Linked DNA regions of Homo sapiens. The protein of the gene in region 2 purifies or fractionates together with the protein of the main gene of each other region. This does not show direct contact. Each region holds a gene or a part of one and is shown on either strand. Other genes may lie near its edges.

Region 1 (7,248 bases), on a different chromosome or scaffold from region 2:
CAGCCTAGCCAAAATGGCAAAACCCCATCTCTACTAAAAATACAAAAATTAGCCAGGCGTGGTGGGGGACACTTGTAATCCCAGCTACTTGGGAGGCTGAGGCAGGAGAATCGTTTGAACCCGGGAGGCAGAGGTTGTAGTGAGCCGAAATCGCACTACTGCATTCTAGCTTGGGTGACAGAGTAAGACACCATCTCAAAACAAACAAACAACAACAAAAAACCTTTATGTTGCAAACAACAGAAAACAGAAAACTCAAAGTGAAGCTGTGTGGTTTGAGCAAAAACTGAACAGTCCAGGGACAGCTCTAGCTTCATGAGAGGCTTGATGCAGGGCTCAAATGGCATGACCAGAACTCTTTGCTCCCTCTCTTCCAAGCAGATTTGTCTTTCATGAACCCAAGTTGTCAGCTGGAAGCTCTGGGTTATAAAGTTTAAGTACAGAGGGTGTATTAATCTGCTCAGGCAACTGTAACAAAATACCACAGATTGGGTGGCTTAAATAACAGACATTTTCTCACAGTTCTGGAGGCTGGGAGTCCAAGACTAAGGTTGGTTTCTGGTGAAGTCTCTCTCCCTGGGTTGCAGACAGCCTCCTTCTCGCTGTGCGCACTTGGGAGTAGTGGGGAAAAGAGAGGGAGAGATAAAGAGGAAGGGGATCTATCTCTGATGTCTCTTCCTCTTCTTATAAGGACAGTAGCCCTATCAATTAAGGCCTCACCCTTGTGACCTCATTTAACCTAAAGGGCCCTGTCTCCAAATACAGTCACATTGGGAATTAGGGTTTCAACATATGAATATGGGGTGGGGGGCAATGGAGGTGAGGACACAATTCAGACTATAACAGAGGCAGTTAACAAAATCCATTTTTCCAGCTGTCCCAGTGAAAAATCTCTTTGGCTTAGATTCCATCACATGCACATCTTTGAATCAATTACTGTAACCAGGGTGACGGGATATCCTAGAGATGAAAGGTAGCATCAGTTTTAAAGAATTCATATGGCTGAAAATTGAGAAAATAGAAATTATACAAAAGAATAATCAGAATTCTCTTGGTGGGAATAGGAGGAAGGAATTCATGCTAGGATGTTAGCTGTTAAATGTCTACTATATTGGGATGGTGCACTCTTTCTCTGAGAGAAGATTCCCCCTATTTAAAGAAAAAATAGTATAGCTATTAGGCTCATTCAGAGTTCAAGCTGATGCTATACATTGTTGATACAGGAGAGATCGCAGACTGGGTTTCATTATCATTATTACTATTAAACAGTCAAACCCACCTGCCTGGTACAATGATTCATTCTGATATCTAATTATCACAGTGGAAGTTGTGACAATTCAATTTCCTGATCTCTTCTCATATGGCTCCTGTTTTTCTTGTTGGATCCTTATTCTCCTCCTGTGCCATGGATTAGGACAATCCCAAAAGTCCTGCACACACCCCTCCGTTCTCTCTCAAAGCTTTTTTTCTTCATCTCGGCCATCCCCCAAGTTTCAGTGACCACAACCTTGAGTGTAACTTTCGTAACTTCATATTCCAGCCCATCCTATAAATCACAGCACTCTACAGCTTAATCTCATTCTTATTTGCAGACTCTGTGTCTCAGAGTCCTGAGCTTGTTTTTGCTTGATCCCAGCGATGACTAGCTTGCAGCTCTACTTAATAACATGAAGGAACAAGAAAGTCTAAGTCATCCTCTAAGTAAGGATTTACTGTTTATTGTTTGGTAAATGTCTCTTCCACTAAACTCTAAGTTCGTTTAATACAGAGACTATTCATTTGTAATGCCCAAAACAAATGATCATTCAATAAGTTCCTGTCAAAATATATGCAGCTTTCAATATAACGTAACAGTCTAATCCTCTCGTTTCGTCTAGAACAGTCACAATGAAGAAATGATGACAAGTTCACTACAGGAGTCTATCCCAGTTCTGAACAGCTATAATATTAGGAATTGTAACTGAGGGCCACAGAGTTGGGAGGTGGGTGTTGTTTCCCAGAATCTGAACTCCCATCCTATGCTTGGTGAATCCACTACTGTGTGAGGAGGCCAAGTCCCATCTCTCCTTACGTAAATGGAAAATAACAGATACAAGGTTGCTGTTTTTTGCTTTTTCCTGACCTTTGGTATTTAGGCCATGGTATGCGGACCTTGCCTGAGTACGGAGATCTGCATCTGGTATTGTGAATCAGAAGTTCCATTAAGTTATCTTAAAAGTAGAACCCATCTAGAATTCATTTCACTTGTGACATCTAGCGTCCAGTGGTGGTATTGGCAGTCCTGTATTCAGGCCATCCCTAAAGAATGACCTTTATTATGACATGGGGTAACCTCTAAGACTTTCCTAATGCTGTCCCCTCCCCTAGAATGCACCCCTCCTTAGCTCTGCCATCCTTCAAGGCCCTGCTTGAAGTGTCACATGCACTGGGAAGTTTTAAAGGAACATTTAGACAAAATATACCTCTCCCTTCACACAACTCCTTTAGTGTGGGGCACATACCACTTGCATAGCATTTACAGCCCTGTAAGTTCTATTTGTTTTTTAAAATCTCCTACTATATTGCGAGCATCTTCTAGGCAATAGTCGAGTTTACCACATCTCTGAATTCCTCCACTATGCCTAACACATTGCAGTCACTCAATTAATAGTTTAAAATACATATTTTTAAAATAGAATAGGAAGAAACATTAATAACATAGGGTATACCTTCTCTTGTAACAAAGGAGAAAAAATAAGTTCAGATCGATTTTAGATTACCTAATTGCAGCCAGTCATGATTGGCCTAAGCTAGAACAATCTTTTCCTGGCCCCTGAGTTAAGGAATCTTTGTTCAGTGATAGGGAAAATGGTATTTGTTTCATTTCTCCAAGAACATAGGTGTGATTACAAATGAATGAGCATCTGGTTCATTGGAGTCCCAGATAAATCTGTGAGACAACACTGTGAGCAATTTGTTGCCAATCTTAAAGCTCAGATCAACCCTTTGAGTCTGGCTTAGCTCAGGCAGAAATTGTAGTCTGCAAAAGAAACTGAGAAGAAGAGGGCAAGGAGAGTGTGGCATCCCAAGACATAAAGACTCAAATCAATGAGAGCAAGCAACTCTGTCAAATTTCACCAGAAGTGAGGACTAAATATTGACTACCGAATTTTGCAAGGTAGGAATCACTGGTAAACCTAACAAGAGCCACTTCATAGTATTGGTTGGGACCAAATCCTGGTTAAAGTGGGAAAAACAAACAAAAGAACAAAAGGTAAGAAAATGGAGATAATGGATGTAAAGATTTTTTTTCCCCAGAAATTTTGTTATAAAGAGAAGAAAACAAATGGGGTGGTTGCCGATTGGTGTCAAGGAGGATTTTTTAAAAAATGAAATCATGAAATGATTTTATGGCAATCACTGCAGCATGTTTATGAACTGATAGGGAAGATCCAATAGAGAAGAAAAAACTGAAGATGCAAAAAAGAGCAGTTAGAGCCAAGTTCTCAAATAGGCAAGAAAAGATGGGCTCGAAAGAACGACATGATTCATGTAACAGTTACTAGGACTCATCAGTGCTCATTAAATGTTATCTATTATTATTTCTGATCGCTTCAATTTTTGAATAGGCATCAGGGTTACAAAATATTATTATTAAAAACACATGCAAACAGCTTGGACTCTAAGACTGCATTCAATTCTAGTTCTACCACTTGGACAAGGCACTTTTTTTCTTCGGGCTTTTTCTCTGTAGAAAACGAGGAGTAATATCTGCCTCATAAGGCTGCGGGCTTAACTGAGATAATCTGTAAACTTTAACACATGGTGGGAACTTAAATATTAACGCCAGTATTACCACTGGTAGGGTGCATGAGATCGCACGATGGTGCCAAAGGTGTCTCTCCACCGCCCAGCCCAGCGACACTGTTCCCCTAGAAGGCATTGTCGTAAAAACAAAAAAAAAAAAAAAACGAACAAACAAAACACCAAAACACGGAAACTAAAAGCAAATACTTAAAAGACATGCAGGAAACCAGCCCAAGGAAAAATTTATGTGGAGCCACGTCTGCGCCTGCGCCTGCGCCAAGCCCACGGCGCGCCACTTGCACATGCGCAGTAGCTGTAGGAGGGGGTGGGCGCTCCATTGGGCGTTTCTCTTGGTTTTTCCTTTCCGCGCGGCTTGGGCGGACGTCTCGTGAGACGTGGGACTTCTCGCGGGAACTGCATTCAAATATCCCAGGCGCTTACTCGAGAGCTAGCTGAGCGAATGGGCCGGCGACTGTGGAGTTAGCGTCCTCAATGTGGACGCCCTGAGCTCCCATTAGGAGCCGCTGGCTGCGGCAGCAGGGGACTAGCGTGAGAGGTAGGGGCAAGGGGCCTGGTGGGAGGTGGGTGTGGAGAGCGGCAGTGGGGAGAGTCGAACAGGCCCTAAAGAAAGCTAGGGGCCGGGGTCTCGGCCGAGGCCTTTAGCTGAAACATCTCCTTCCCCGGAACCCTGGGGTCTTATACACTGGGTTCCGAGCCGGTCTTATCTTCCGCTGGACCACCTCGCCGCCCTCAGGGATTCTGGACAAATATGGAACGTTGGGTCGGTTGCCGGGTCCTCAAAATTATAACCGCCACTGGATCTGCGCTGTGCGGTACGGTAGCCTCTAGCCCGAACTAAGAAATGGTGCAGATGGGAGATACATATTGGGTTTCAGAGATAGCGCATAAGGAGTAATATCTCATTAATAATTTTTATAATGATTACATGTTGAAATGATGTTTTGAGTGTATTTGTTTAAATATGTAAATTAATTTTTCATCTTTGTTTACTTTTTAAATCATGATGGCTCCTAGAACATTTAAAATCACGTACATGACTCGCGTTATATTTCTGCTGGACAGCACTGCCCCAGCCGTGTGTCAGATTCTACCCTAATTGCTTTTCATTCGTTATCTCATTTAATCCTTTCAGTAACCGATTAGGTGGGTGTTATTGTGCTTGTTTTTATAGATGATTAAACCAGAAATTAAATAACTTGTCCAAGTTCATGCAGCCAGTGAGTAGTGGAGGCGGGGTAAGAACTCAGGCAGTTTGATTCCCAGAGTTTCCTGTGTCCCAAATGCTTTGTGTGTGCTATATTTTTGAGAAGCAGGACAGGAAAAATGGTTGCAGCACCATGGTTTCTAGGTAGATTCTAGTTCCCATCACACTTCGCGTCTTAACTTGCGGGTAACCCTAAGCAAGTTACTTAAAACTTTCTATGCCTCAGCTTGCATGTGTAAAATGAGGGAAATACCTTCAACCTCTTGAAGTTGTTGAGAAGATTGAATAAGAATGTGTATAAAGCGGCCGGGTGCGGTGGCTCACGCCTGTAATCCCAGCTACTCGGGAGGCTGAGGCAGGAGAATGGCGTGAACCCGGGAAGCGGAGCTTGCAGTGAGCCGAGATTGCGCCACTGCAGTCCGCAGTCTGGCCTGGGCGACAGAGCGAGACTCCGTCTCAAAAAAAAAAAAAAGAATGTGTATAAAGCACCAAGCACAATGTCTGTCACACATTAGTAGTTTTTAATCAACCACGGCTATCTCTCTTTGTAGATTGATAGGTTAACTCTTTCTCATCCATTAGACCTCTGCTGAAAAGTTACTTCCTCAGGAAAATTTTTTTGTCCATGTTCCCTTCTACGCGCTGCCCCCCAGATTAGGACAGCTCCCCCTTGTTACAGGCTCAGGTAGCATACATCTGTCTCTCTTGCACTTATCATACTTGTAACTTGATAGTTCAATTACTTGATTTAATGTCTTTTACTAATAGACTAGGATTCAAGAAGACAGGAATATTGTTTTAGGTTGCCATTGTGTTGTCAACACTAGCACAATGTCTCACACAATAAGAATTCCAGCAAATTTTTTGAATAAACTAAAGCAAATTTTTTTTGGCTTCTCTGGATATGCCTGGCTGGAATGTCTTGAGGTTAACCCTATTTTTATTTTGGTAGTTGAGATGACAGTATTTACTTAACTCAAGCTCATCAAGATAATTAGATGAGATAATATATTTGAAGCAGTTAGCATGGCAAATGGTAAATCCTCAACGAATGTAAGTTATTGTGAACAGTACAACATTTAGTTGGCTGGCCGTATCATGTACAGGCTTTGAAAAGGTCTTGCATTTTAGAGCAGTGACTGCCAAGCTGGGATTACCTAGAACACCTTTTTTTCTCTCTTAAACCCTGTATCTCTTCCCTTGTCTTCATTCTCAGTTAAAGACCTTGCTTCCTAATTCATTGATAAATTGAAGCAGTTAAAAGGTTACTTACACAGACTTCCACCACTGTACCTGCTTATCAGCATCTAAACTCATATACTTTGCTTAAATGAAATATCCATGCTTCTATTAAAACCAGTCTCTACATTAAACTTCATCCTGTTTATTCAGGGACATCACTAGCAATTCTCCAGTGTCTTCTAGATCATCAGTTTTTCTTCTCTCCTGGATTTATCCCATGACCTACAAACACTGTTATTTTTTTCCATCTTAAAAATAAAAAAACTTGTCCCTACTTCCTCTCCAACTGCTGCTCCGTTTATCCGTTATCCTTTGCAGCAAACCTGTGCTTGCTATCTTTATCTCCTACCATTCTCTCTTGAAGGCATTCTAGTTAGGCTTTCACCCCCACCTGGATATCAAAACTGTTCTTGTCACCAGAGACCTCCAGGAATTCAAGTTCAATGGCCAGTTCTCTGCTCTCACCTTAATTGCCTTAGCAGCAGCATCTGGCATGATTGATTACTCCCACCTCCTTAATACACTGTTTATTGCCTTCCAGGACAACACATACTCCTGGTTTTCCTTCTACCTCACTGGTCACTCCTGATTCTCCGCTGTCTTCTTCCCTACCTCATAACAGGGTTCAGTCGTTGGTCCATTTCTCTTTAAATACTTTTATCCTCTATAGACTGATAATTCTCAAATTTGCATATCCAGCCAAGATTCCTCTTCTCATATATCCAATTGCCTACTTGACATAGTTCATGTTCAAAACTCAAATTCCTGATTTTATTTCCAAAACATTATTTACATCAGTGCTTCAGCTGATGGCAATTCCATTTTACTAGGTGCTCAGGCCAGAAGACTTGGAGGCATTTTTTACTTTTCCCTTTTTCACACATCCCAAATTATATCTTTCAGAAAATCATATTGACCTTACCTTCAAAACCTTCAAAATCTGGCCATTTCTCACAGCCTCCTATGCTGCCACCCTAGTCTGAGCCATTTCACAT
Region 2 (8,009 bases):
TGGATACAGCACCTGGTTGACGGATGGGGTCCATGGCAACGGGCAACATAGACCATGTCTTGTTGCAACTTCCAGAAAAACTGTGGAAGTGAAGACAGTCCAAATGAGAATAAGCAAAAGGTGTTTATACAGAGCTTGCTATAGAAAGGAAGTCAGCCGCCATCTTTTGCATTTATCAGAGATTCAGAGGTAGGCAGGAAAGTCTGAGAGATTCATGGTAGAAAAAGTTATGTCCTGATTGCTGGCCTAGGGATGCTGTAAGCTGGCTAACTAGAAGTGTGGATTTCTATGGGATTAGTCAGAGATCCATATTTTGCTTTCTGTGGTTGGTCATAAATTGAAAATAGAGGCAAAAATTAGGGAAGCTGGCAGTTATTGGCCAATGCTGGTGTATTTGACTGTTGTAAGGGTCATGATAGAAGCTGTTTAGTCTATAAGGGCACTAAGAGTTTAGAGGGTTTCTTAGCAGTTTGGCTGCAATAACAAAATACCATAGACTGGGTAGCTTAAAGAACAGATGTTTCTATCTCACAGCTCTGCAGGCTGGGAAGTACAAGATCAATGTGCCAGCAGATTTCACATCTAGGGAGCACCTGTTCCTTGGATCATAGACAGCCAATCTCTGGCTATGTCCTCACATGGCAAACATGCCAAGGGAGTTCTCTGAGAACCCTTTTATAAGGGGACTAATGTCATTCATGAAAGCTCCACCCCCATGACTTGATCATCTCCTGAAACCCCCACCTACTAATGGCTTGAAAGAATATATTTTTTAGGGATCTCTTCTAAAGATTTGGGGGTCAGGATCTCAACATATGAATTTTTGGGAAACATAAACATTCAGTCCATAACACAAGGCAACAGAAAAATAAAATAGTACCTGTGTATTTTTGGGGCATTGACCTTCACTTCCAAGAAGCTTTCCTTGATGTTAATGGAGCACCTGACTCCCAAGGCATGGTATAAAAATAGACTGTGAATAAGAATTCTACGAGTTCTACCAAATAGCCTGTGATATGTGCATTTGAACAATGTATATTACAATATAGCATTGAAGTTGTTTTGTTTGTGTACCAAGTCATTATCCATACGTTTGTATGTATACATAGTCTGAAAATGTATTGTCAAACTATTATCTTAAATCAGTGTTGCCATATGTTTTCTCTTTTTATTATTTATGATGTCAATGTGCTGAGATATTTTAATAAATATCATATATCACTCAAAAACTTTATTATTAAAAATGTATAGATCTGGTGTAGTCCAAAGAAATGTTTTATGAACATATATACACCAAGGATCTAAAGAGCAAAGTTAACCTTTTATCTTTGATTTATCACGTGTCAGTCACTCCACCCCTGTTTGCCTCACTCAAACACATTATTATTATTATTATTATTATTATTATTATTATTATTATTGTGCATTTCAAAGTAAGTTGCAGACATCTTTGCAGTTCACCCTGGGACACAGTGGCATGCAGATTATAACATAGTCAAAGCAGTAAGAACCACCATTGCAAGAAAGAGGATGAATTAAAGTTCACCCAGGCTTATTTCAGATCCCAGAGCAGGAAATGAGGAGGGCAGATGAGGAGAAATGAGGATTCTGAAATAGTCTACTCGTGGGAGAAGAGTGCTGTCATGAAGGTGGAGTCGCTGCCCAAGAGAGACTGGAGAGAGAGTGTGTAGAGCCACTGAACATCAGGGCTGCACACTGTAGGGCCTGGGGCAGACAGGACATGCTGCAGCAGGGGAAAAGCCCCTGGCCCATGTGGAAGATGCAAGCTGGGTGGGTGCTGTGGATGCCATAGTGATGTGGAATGAGAGGAGAAAATGGGAGCCTGGGCTCCAAACAAGGAGTAAGCAGAGCCACACTTCTTACTCTCTCACTGAATCAGGTAACATGGAGAAAGATCTGGATCTTTGCACCTGCCCAGTAAGGAAGCAGAGGTGGGAGAGGGAGAGTCAGCCTGGACAAACTCAGGGAGAAGCAGAGGCCCCAGCCTCACTGCACATGTGTTCCTGATCTGTTTCCTCTGATTCTCCAGGTGTTGAAGAGCCATGGACAAGACTACCTCGTTGGCCACAAGCTGAGCCGGGCTGACATTCACCTGGTCAAACTTCTCTACCACGTGGAAGAGCTTGACACCAGCCTCATCTCCAACTTCCCTCTGCTGAAGGTGACCCATTTCCCAGTCCTCAAGAGGCAGCTCCTCATCTCCCATCTTGGGATCTAGTATCTGGGTCCTTGAACTGGCCACATTCTGACCTCAGCCTTCTCCAGGTCTTCAGGGCCCCCCAGGTCTCCAAAATGAGCTTCCAGGTCCTGATTCTGAGGCATGGAAATGCCTTCTTGTTATGCCAAGGAAATTACATGTGCATGCTACCCCAAGAATATTTCGCTTTTTATAATGCCAAGGACCCAGGACTCAGCATCTCTCCTCATCCCTTTATTTCACTGTGGTTTCTGTTCCTGAGTTCTCTGTGATGCCCTTTATCCCAATATGCCCTTATCTTCCCACACCAAGTGTGTCTGAGCAGGGCCCTTTCCATCTGGTTCCTTCCTTATGCTCTGGCTCTTGCTGTCAGATAACTGAGTTCCTTGTGCACAGCTCTCCCAACACGCTGCCCCTGAAAGCTATATCTCTCTATGGGAAAAAGTGGTCCCATGGTTTGACTTTAACATTTTCTATTTTCATTTCTAGCTCAATTTTCCCATATCTTCACTTCTTCTGCTTAGAGACTGATCTGTGCTATCTCACAGGCACATTGTTCTTTCTCATCTTCTACAAGAGCCATGAATCTACAAGATTCATGTGTAAGGAAGAGGGTAGGAAGACTGAACTGAATAAAGTCTTAAAGACATTTTTTGGGAAAATGCTAGTGAGCTGCATGTTCTTCCTCTTATCTTCATTTCTCACGTAGTGTCTCTTTCTGCCTCCCTACTGGTGCTGATAGAGGGAACTTAGTTGGTCTTTGTGTAGGAGGGGCGCAGATTCCCTGGGTTGTGTTAATGGTGGTGTTAGCCCTTGGCTTCACTCTGAGGCTGTGCTTTGTGCATTGCGGGCCCTGAAAATCAGAATCAGCAAACTCCCCACAGTGAAGAAGTTTTTGCAGCCTGGCAGCCTGAGGGAGCTTCCCATAAATGCGAAAGGTTTAGAAGAAGCAACAAAGATTTTCAAGGTTTGATAAAACAGGCATGGATGCCAAGAACATGCAATACCAATATTCTAAAGTTTTGCAACAATAAATTGCTTTATCTAAATGTTGGTTGTGGCTATTGTGAAGTTAATAAACTTTTTAAAAATTATGTGCTAATTACATAGTAAAATGCCTATGACCAGATTTAGTTAAAATTGATTTCTTTTCATTAGTATCTGATATGAAATCAGATTTCCAAACTCCCCATAAATTTTCTTGGAATTAAAAATTTAGTAAAAAAGTAAAATGTAGACTATGTGGTTTGTTTGACTTTTTCAAGAATTGTCCTGCAACATTTGTCAAATGGCCTATCAGAAAGTCATGTATAGAAATTTACTTCTGACATTCTGCACAAGAAAACAGTTATCATTCTGGGGAATGGCAAAATGAAATTTTCTTTTTTCCTTGACATCCATTTTATTTCTCATGAAAACACTTTTTCTTATGCATTTTCAAACAACCTTTCTGTCTGCTATGGATCCCTCAGTTTTGTAAGGGGTGAGGAAATATTGAAGAGCAAACAGACCCACCCTCTGCTCTCAGGCCAACTTGTCATCCCTTACAGTGCATGTGCTCCTGGCTCATCCTCACTCTCCTCAAGGCTCTGTGGGGACCCGGGCATAAGCCTTCCCTCAGTTCCTTCAGTGCCACTCAGGCCTGGCTGCGAAGATACAGATGGTATATGCGAATTACATATAAGTAACTATATGCAAAATTATTTTTCCCTGGTGTGTCATTGTGCCAGCGTGTTTGGATTAGAAGTGATTTCCAGGAATCCTTCCCTGCGTCTTCTAGCTTCTGGGGGCTCTTGGCCTTTCTGGACTTTCATGGATCATGACCACATCACTCTAATTTCTGCCTCTGTGTTCCAGCACCTCACCCCCTGTGTGTTGTGTCTTCTCTTCTCTCTGCTGTGAGGACAATTGTCATTGGATTTGGGGCCTATCCAGATATACCAAGATGATCTCATCTCAAATTCTTTTACTTCATTACATCTGCAAAGAGCCTTTTTCCAAATAAGATCAAGTTCACAGGATCTAGGGATTTCTATATGGACCTATCTTTCTTGGGGGCCAACATAACCCCCTACATGGTATAGGTGAAATAAGATTATTTGCAATTGATGAATCCAGGTGATGAATACTTTCAGATTTGTTATATTATGGGCAATTTGAGTGACGCAAAGAGGATAGCATATGCAAATAGGGTCTCTGGATTTGTCAGATAAAATACAGGATACCCACCTAAATGTGAATTTCAGATAAACAATAAATAATATTTCAGTATAATCTGGTTTCATACCGTGTTTGGAACATAGCTATAACTAAAAAATTGTTGATTGTTTGCCTGAAATTCACATTTACATGGATGTCCTATATTTTATTTGGCAACCCAGTAAGAAAACGGTGGCATCAGCTTGCCCTTCACAGACATCCTCTCCCAGCTATGCTCACAATAGAGATTTTTCAGTTGCCCTAGTCTTTGCACCCAACTCATGAAAAAAAGCATCTTTAAAAAGCCAGTTTCTGCTGACTTGCAAAAAGAGCAAAATCTCGGTGAAATGTATTGTGTAAACTTTGATTGCCAACCTTGAAAAGGAACACATTAACCAGTGTCTTCTGATAAGCAGATCACTTGCCTCATGTCTTAGAATCCAGTAGGTGGCCCCTTGGCCATGAAATGTGTGGGAGTGGCTTTTCCCTAACTTGACTCTTCTTTCAGTGGGAGAGAACTATTGAGAGGAACAAAGAGCTTATAAATACATTAGGACCTGGAATTCAGTTGTCGAGCCAGGACGGTGACAGCGTTTAACAAAGTAAGTACTGATCTTATAAATTTCTCTACATTGCCTCACACCCTCCTCTCTAGCCTCCTAGAAAAATATGCTAATATGTGTCCTTAGCACAAGGAAAAGTCTGTTTTTACTCATATTGTGCCGTCTTGGTGTGCTTGGGTGACAGTTCAAGAATTGTTTATTTCTTTTCTGTTGGATACATCTTTACAGAATTGTAAAAATGAAGAATTTAGAAAACCAGGGCTTCAGCATTTAATGGTATGGGAAACAATGACATGAAGAGAAAAAAGAAATGGTAGCATTTTAAACAATCTGAGAATAATCAGTGCTGGAAGAAGTGGCAATGTATGCAAAAATTTATTTCTCTGTGTAAGTAGTCAACACACAATTGTAAATTGTGACACTGTAATTCTATATTGGCTGTGAAAATACAAAACTCAGGTTTAGTATAATTAGAATAAATTAGTTTGAATGTCAGGAGAACTAGATTCTAGTTGAGCCTTTGCCACTAATTAGCTCAAAGACAAGTCATATTCTGTCTCTGGAGTTCTACCAACTCATGGCCAATATAGAGGATAGCTAAGAAAGAGGCTCCGACTGTTGCTGCCCTTTAAACTGTGTAATTCTTTGAATGGAGATCTGTCCTGCTCACTCTAGGATGTTTCTAGGCATCCCTGGCCTCTACCTATCTGATTTGTAACCCCCTTTCCCTCCCCGCAGATATGACAACCCAAAATGTCTCTAGACCTTGCTCAATGTCCTCTGGAGCAGAGGAGCAAAATCCCCCTGGTTGAGAACCATGGGACTACATGACCTCATGGGGCTAAGCAAGGCTGTGTTACTGATGTGCCCCACTGCTTGGACATTCACTGAAAATTTCCTGTTAATCCAGGTGGACTGATTAGTGAATATCAATATCTTCTGTACAGGAGCTAAAAAGGAAAGAGAGAGAGAAACAGAGAGCCATCATATGACAGATTTGATATAAGTCTGGATTCATATAAAATCTTATTCCTACTCGAGTTCTATGAACAAAATATAGAGAACCAGAGAAATGGATACAAGACAGATAATAGATGATGAAGAGACAGATTACAAAGAGATAGATACATAGAACGATTGATAGATAAAATAATACATACATGGATGGGTAGACAGAGATTATAAATAGATACATATACATAGATTGTTGGTCAGTAAAATAATTGATGGATAGATAGATCAAAGAAAGAGGATCCATGGGCTACTCAATATGTCCAGAGACTCACCCATCTTCCAAGCACTGGGACAAGAGCAAACACCCATTGCTGTGTTCCTACTATGAATTTTTTGTACATTATCTCATTTAACTTTCTCAACAACCCTCAAAAGTAGAAATAACTATCTCTATTCTAAGAAGAGAAAATTGAGGCTCAGAGATTAAACAACCTACTGCATTTATGAATCTCATAATGGAAGGAGTCATAGTTTATCTCATTCTCCCTTCTCTCTGATAAGAAACAGTGTCATTGGGACCACCTCAGAGATGTAAATGTAACTCCTTTAATTTACTCCTGGAATTATGAGAGCTTATATTCCTTTCAAAACAAGCCCATTTTTTAATTGATGTAAGTTAATTATTGATGTAAAGTAATTATACTAGTCCTCAACTCACTCTGATTTTTAGGTTGTCAAATCAGAGAAAGTCACAGTTTTATCAATTTTTTCTTCCAAGCAAGCCCCTGAAAAGTTGCTAACAGGAGGAACTCAGGAATTAGATGTTCCCCTCTCGTCCTCTCCTTCCAACATTTATTTGGCTAATATATATTTAATAGGAAAATACAAAACAACTTCTCAGACAGGAGCTGAGAGCCAGGTTATGAGGTGGAGTGGAAAAGCTCTGGACCTGCAATCAGAAGTTAAGGCTGACCCAACACTCACCAAGTGTGCAGCATGAGACAGGTGCTTTAGCTCTCTGAAACTCAGTGTGCCCATCTTTAATTTGGATAATAGGAGCCATTTCCCAGGGTTGTTGCGGAAGGTAAACACACTCCCTAGATATTGACTATGAATGAGGAGCATGTGTGTGTGACCCATGGCAAATCCTTGAGCTCTCTGGTTCTCATTTTCTGTTGACCCAACAAAGCTCAATGGTAACCTATGTCTCAGTCTTAGCCTGACCCTTGGAAACCTCACATTGAGAAAGTGATATGCTAGTTATCAGCAGGAGTGTTGTGATAAAATATTATGTAAGATAAAATTTCACTTCCTTTTGAAACATGATCCTCAATCAATGGCTAAGAGAGTTTAGTTTGGGGATTGGAATTACAACACTGTGAACTCTAGTCGATAACAATTAAACAAGCATACCCCATGCTTTCATCTGAACTTCACTCTCCCTTTCACTCTGTCAAATTATGCTATTTCCATTTCCCAAGTTACTTTAAATTGCTCCTGGAGTTATCATAGAAAGTACAATGTCAAAATATCTCATGACAAAACAGGTGAGTTGATTCAGTATGATTTCAAAGAATTCTTTACTTTCCAAAGGTTAATTATTGACTCCCATATTTTAAAATGAGACATTTAAAAGATTTTGATGCCTAATTTTAGTCATACATACCTTTTTAGAAATACATTAGTTGAGGCCGGGTGCAGTGGCTCACTCCTGTAATCCCAGCACTTCGGGAGGCTGAGGCGAGTGGATCACCTGAGGTCAGGCGTTCCAGACCAGACTGTCCAACATGCTGAAACCCTGTCTCCACTAAAAATACAAAATTATCCGGGTGTGGTGGCACATGCCTGTAATCCCAGCTACTCAGGAGGCTGAGGGAGGAGAATCACTAGAACCTGGGAAGCTGAGTTTGCAGTGAGCCAAGATCACGCCATTGCTCTCCAGCCTGGGCAAAAACAGTGAAACTCCATCTCAAAATTAATAATAAATAAATAAATACATTAGTTGTTAAAGGCAAGTATATTTTTGTTCCACACTCAACAACCACAAAACTTTGCAAGAAGAATCTTAATGTTAA

What was found. Proteins that work in one complex are often made in the same cells at the same time.
Region 1: the proteins of GSTA1 (region 2) and SPDL1 purify together in Homo sapiens (affinity purification with mass spectrometry; 3 studies listed by BioGRID and IntAct, with this or other methods). This does not show direct contact.

What each region holds. Positions count from the first base shown.
Region 1 is NC_000005.10:169,579,548-169,586,795, forward strand, and holds the start of SPDL1 (protein Spindly), read left to right. Parts: upstream 1-4,225; 5' UTR 4,226-4,342; intron 4,343-4,532; exon of another isoform or gene 4,533-4,619; intron 4,620-7,248. UniProt on the Homo sapiens protein: Required for the localization of dynein and dynactin to the mitotic kintochore.
Region 2 is NC_000006.12:52,800,795-52,808,803, reverse strand, and holds the start of GSTA1 (glutathione S-transferase A1), read left to right. Parts: upstream 1-4,987; 5' UTR 4,988-5,019; intron 5,020-8,009. UniProt on the Homo sapiens protein: Glutathione S-transferase that catalyzes the nucleophilic attack of the sulfur atom of glutathione on the electrophilic groups of a wide range of exogenous and endogenous compounds.